Linked DNA regions of Homo sapiens: region 1 is linked to region 2. Evidence: fine-mapped expression QTL. Tissue or cell type: tibial nerve. Region 2 holds a variant in brackets; the other region holds the start of a gene. All regions are shown on one strand. Distances are between the middles of the regions.

Evidence for each region. PIP is the estimated chance that this variant, and not a neighbour inherited with it, causes the effect.
Region 1: it holds the start of FA2H, and the variant in region 2 is fine-mapped to the expression of FA2H in tibial nerve (GTEx, PIP 0.98).

What each region holds. Positions count from the first base shown.
Region 1 is chr16:74,773,650-74,776,404 of GRCh38, reverse strand. FA2H (fatty acid 2-hydroxylase) reads left to right here and starts at 1,585. Exons shown (of 7, transcript NM_024306.5): 1 at 1,585-1,919. The coding sequence starts at 1,650. RefSeq lists silencers at 1,279-1,338, 1,349-1,478, 1,489-1,858, 1,899-1,948.
Region 2 is chr16:74,733,487-74,736,241 of GRCh38, reverse strand. All of the region lies in intron 2 of FA2H (fatty acid 2-hydroxylase), which reads left to right. Among named protein-coding and RNA genes, the nearest start is that of MLKL, 34 kb to the right of the region's middle. RefSeq lists an enhancer at 2,188-2,747. The variant C/A (reference allele first, on the strand shown) is at 1,328.

The DNA.
Region 1 (2,755 bases), 40 kb before region 2:
AGATTCTTTAACAAACTAAAAGTACACTTTGGGGCTGGGCGCGGTGGCTCACGCCTGTAATCCCAGCATTTTGGGAGGCTGCGGCGGGAGGATCACTAGAGGCCAGGAGTTCGAGACCAACCTGGCCAACATGGTGAAACCCCGTCTCTACTAAAAATACAAAAAAATTAGCCGGGCGTGGTGGCACGCGCCTATAGTCATAGCTACTCTGGAGGCTGAGGCAGGAGAATCGCTTGAACCCGGGAGGCGGAGGTAGCAGTGAGCTGAGATTGTGCCACTGCACTTCAGCCTGGGCAACAGAGTGAGACTCTGTCTCAAAAAAAAAAAAAAAAAGTGCACTATGGGAGGCCATGGCAGGCAAATCGCTTGAGCCCAGGAGTTTGAGACCATCCTGGGCAGCATGGTGAAACCTCGTCTCTACAAAAAATACAAAAATTAGCCAGGCGTAGTGGTGCATGCCTGTAGTGCCAGCTACTTGGGAGGCTGAGGTAAGAGGATTGCTTGAGCCCGGGAGGTCGAGGCTGCAGTGAACCAAGATCGCACCACTACTCTCCAGCCTGGGTGACAGAGTGAGACCTTGTCACGGGAAGGGAAGGGAAAGGAAGGGAAGGGGAGGGGAGGGGAGGGGAGGAGAGAAAAAGTAGATTCACCATTCGGTCCAGCAATCCCACCACTGGGTATCTACCCAAAGGAAAAGAGTCATTATATGAAAAAGACACTTGCACACGAATGTTTGTTTTTTGCAGCCCAATTCACAATCGAAAAGATATGGAACCAACTTAAATAACCATCAACCAATGAGTGGATAAAGAAAATGTAGTTGATATACACGATAGAATACTACTCAGCCATAAAAAGGAACGAAATGAAGTCTTTTGCAGCAACTTGCATGGAGCTGGAGGCCATTATTCTAAGTGAAAGTGATTCAGGAATGGAAAACCAAACACTGTATGTTCTCACTCATAAGTAGGAACTAAGCTATGAGGACGCAAAGGCATACAGAGTGATATAATGGACAATAGGGAGAATGGGAGGGGGTGTAACACACACACACACACAAAACCCTACACATTGGGTATAATGTACACTACTCGGGGGACAGGTGGACTAAAATCTCAGGACTTACCACTATACAATTCCTCCATGTAACCAAAAACCACTGGTACCCCAAAAGCTACTGAAATTTTAAAAACAAACAAATATTTGCACCCGAGGCGAGCACCTCATTCGCCTCTCGCTCTCTCGGGCACCTCCTGGAGCCAGAGGGTCCCATGCGGCCAGCTCCTCCGTGGAAGCAGTTGAAGTTATTCCAGCAGCGATCAGGCCACCGAGGATGTCCGCCCAGACAACCACCCGCGACGGGGAGACTCGCTCCGCCTGTGTCCGCCCACCCTCCTCCCGCGCGGGACACACCTGGCGGGCGCGGCACTCCCTGTCCGCGGCCACCTGGCGCGCAGCTCCCGGCGCCGGGCCCGCCCCTCGCGGCTCTGCCGGGGCTCCCGGCCGGCCAATGGGAGCGCGGTATGCAAATGAGCAGGTGCGGTGGCGGCCCGCCCGGAACGGCCGCGGGGCTCCCGGGATGTTAGAGGCGCTCAGGGTGGCAGCAGAGCAGACGCCGGGCTGCGCGCTGGGAGCTGCGGTCTCCGGCCATGGCCCCCGCTCCGCCCCCCGCCGCCTCCTTCTCGCCCTCCGAGGTCCAGCGGCGCCTGGCGGCCGGCGCGTGCTGGGTCCGCCGCGGGGCCCGCCTCTACGACCTCTCCAGCTTCGTGCGGCACCACCCGGGGGGCGAGCAGCTGCTGCGGGCCAGGGCGGGCCAGGACATCAGCGCCGACCTGGACGGGCCGCCGCACAGGCACTCGGCCAACGCGCGCCGCTGGCTGGAGCAGTACTACGTGGGAGAGCTCCGCGGGGAGCAGCAGGTACAGCCGGGCCGGGGCCCCCCACCCCAACCCAGGCCTCCGTCAGCCTTCCACTCCCGGGCGAGCCCCGTTCACTTGCCCTCTAGCAGGACCCAAGGTGACAGCTTCTGCCCTCCCTTCCCTCGCTTTCCCTCTCTTCTCTCCAGGCAACAGGTCACTGTCGTCCCCTCCAACCCCTCCTTCCTCTCTCCAGGAACTTGCTCTTCCTTTCCACCCTTACCGCCTGGCCCGCCTCCGTGCCAGCTCTCCCATTTCCCCAGCACCCCTCCTTCCAGCGTGTTCCTTCTGCAGCCCCTGCCCTCCGACAACCTGGATTCCCGTTTCTGTCCCCAGCCCCCCATACGCCTCGGCTTTCCTTCCTCTTCACTTATCGGCCTCTCCCTCTTTGCAACCACTCTCCGTTTCTGTTTGGATAATGGGCTCAACCTGTTCCCACCTCCCCATCCCACCTCACTTCTGCTTCAAAGAGGCACAGATCAGTAACTCTTCTCACTAGCTTGGGTTTCCTGGTGCCGCCCTGGCCTTGCCTGGGCCATGTCTGGGGTGGACTGTGTCCTCCAACCTCTCAGACCTTCCCTTATATTCTTGTCCTACACGCTGGCTTGGGACTCCAAAAGAGTGAAATGAAAGGCATGAGCCAGTTTTGCCAAGGAAAAGGGACCAGCACTTTGGACCAGACTGTGTGCTGAGCTGCACGCTTCTGTGCAGTACCAGCTCCCGATGGTATTTAAGTCCTTAACTCAACCTGGGGCAGGTTTTGTTATTCCCATTTCAGGATATGGAATCTGAGGCTCAGGGAGGCTCTGATTAATGCGCCTAAGGTCAAATAGCTAAAT
Region 2 (2,755 bases):
GGGCTTAGAGTCCCTGAGTCTCCTCTCTGCCTGCCTCCTTGCTCAGAGCTCCTGGCCCCTCTTCAGAGGAGCTCAGCGGTGCTCAAAAAATACCCCAAGGCAGAAAGCAGGCAGGTGGGCTGGGCACTGCCCTCTGCTTCCGTGGGTCTTAGAGGACACCCTGGGAGGGCAGTGGACAGGGCAGGCTGGGAGGCAAGAGATGCCACAGTGTTCCAGTATGATGCAGAAAGCTATTCCCTCTATCTTTTTTATTTTTTTAGAGACAGGTTCTCACTCTGTTACCCAGGCTGGAGTACAGTGGCAAGATTGCAGCTCACTGCAGCCTCAACCTCCCAGGCTTGAGCCATCCTCCCACCTCAGCTTCCTAATTAGCTGGGACTACAGGTGCATACCACCATGCCTGGCTAATTTTCTTAAATTTTTTTGTAGAGATAGGGTCTTGCTATGTTGTCCAGGCTGGTCTCAAACTCCCAGCCTCAGTGATCCTCCCACCTTGGCCTCCCAAGGTGCTGGGATTGCAACCCTGCATCTTATTATTGCGTAGGATTATCTGGAGGATCTAGTGGAATGTACTAAAGGATATCAGAAAGTGTGCTGCAAGGGAAAGACCACCCTACCTGGTTTTGGGGTGGGGCCCCTGGGCAGGCTCCCTTCGCTCGTCTTCAGCCCTAAGGGCAGAGGTCATGCCTGCTTTCTGCCAGCGCTCAAGCTGTCTTTCATCTCTCCCTGTGTCTCTGGCATTTTTGCTCCCTATCCACTCTCCGCTGCCTGAATCCTCGTGGGGTGAGCCTGAGGCCACCTCCCTGTCCTCACATCCCCTGGGTGACGGGAGGGTCATAGGGCTCAGGGGGAGGAGGCAGGTGATCCGGAACCACCTCTGTGGACTTCAGCTTGTCCCAGTTAGACCGCGCAGGACGGGCCTGCAGCCACTCCGGCAACGCCACCAAGAGCCCCACCTCACTGCCCCCACTGACCGCTGCTGGCTGTGAGGAATCACAGCCGTTGTGCTGAGGAAGTCACAGCCATGGGATCCCAATCTGGCTGACAGGAGGCCTCCTGGCCGAGCCTGGGCTGTGAGTGGGGCACTCGAGTCCAGGCCCTGCCACAGCATATGCAGCCGAACATCTGACCCTGTCTTCTCATCTGTCAAAAGAGGTCATCATCGGCCCCAACTCCCAGAATTAAGGCTCATGAAGGATAGGGGATGTGAGGCCTGAGCCCCAGCTGACCAGCGACCAGGTTGCAGACAACCGGCCCCCACTCCTCTCCCGCAGCCCCGGCTGCCTGGAAGCCTGTCTCCACCTCTGCTCAGAAAGCTGCCCTGGGG[C/A]AATATGCCTGAGTTTGGGTGGACATTTCTTTAAACAATTGCCTTAGCTCATCGCTGTGGGGGTGAGCAGTGCTGCTGACACTGAGCAGCTACCCTGCCCCCGCCGCCTGCCCCCGCTCACCACATTTGCCACCTTAGGGAGAAGCAGATTCTGGGCACACCCTTCCCCAGGAAAGCGTCCTATGCCACCTGGCCCTGTGCTGCCCAGGAGGAGGGGTCCTGGGGAGGGGGAGGAGGAAAACAGGGAAGGCCCCCTTCTACCGGGGCACCATGCCCTTCCGCCCACCCTCTGGGCAGCAGGCTGCCCTTTCCCCCTGCCGTGCTGCTGTGGGCCACATTCCTGGCATAGCCTGGGAGAAGCCCTCCCCTTCTCTCTAAGGCAGGGACCGAGCAGGCTGGGGGAGGGGCATGGACCCCACACAGTCGGCACAAGGTGCTTTGGCCGAATCCACTCCCCCTTGCATCTGCTTCCTGGGCCCCGGCCCGTTGGTCGGGTCTTTGAATCACCAAAAAATCCCTCCACCCCAATGAGCTGCTCATTCCAGAGCAGTTTCGGGCATAACCGTGCTGTCGCCCATGCAGGCCAGCTTCCTCTGGACGGCCCTGAGTGCTGGACATGCCTCTCTAGCGTCGGGTTCCACTGCTGTAAAAGGGGACTTGTTACTGTAGGGGGAGCCGTGGGAGCCCCCAGATGCCTGGGAAGTGGAGGCATCATCAGTGTGGCCTGATCTCCCCTTCTCCCCCACCCGAGCCACGTACATAGCCCACAGACCCATGCCTTCCCTCTGTCCCCCGAGCCTTGGGACATAAGAAGTAAATGGGGCCCGGACCAGGAACGAGCTGGAAGGAAGAGACCCACTAATGTGGTGGGAGTAGGAGAGGGGTCTTCGGTCAGGTAGAAGAGGGTGGGTGGAAGGGCGTGGTGCCCAGGTAGAAGGGGGCCTTCCCTGCTTTCCTCCTCTGCCTCCCCAGGACCCCTCCTCCCAGGCAATACAGGGCCAGGTGGCATAGGACGCTTTCCTGGGGAAGGGTGTGTCCAGAATCTGCTCCCCAAGGTGGCAAATGTGGTGAGCGGGGGCAGGCGGGGGACGGGGCAGCTGCTCAGTGTCAGCAGCGCTGCCCACCCCCATGGCAATGAGCTAAGGCAATTGTTTGGTCAGGTAGAGCAGGAAGCGAAATGTGTCTTGCATCGCTTCCCATCTCATTGGATCCCAAGCCGTCATCGTCTGCTGTCCTCCCATCTCAAAACCCGGTCCCGCCAACTGCCATGTTGGAAACGACCAGCAAGTGAGAGGCCTGGAACCTCTCAGCACCCAGCTGAGCCTTTCTCCTTCAGTGCTCACGACTGGAAGATGATTAAGAAAGGACACCCTATCAGTGCATGTACCACCTAAATCAAGGTCAAGTGCACAGGGTGCCAGTCCCAGC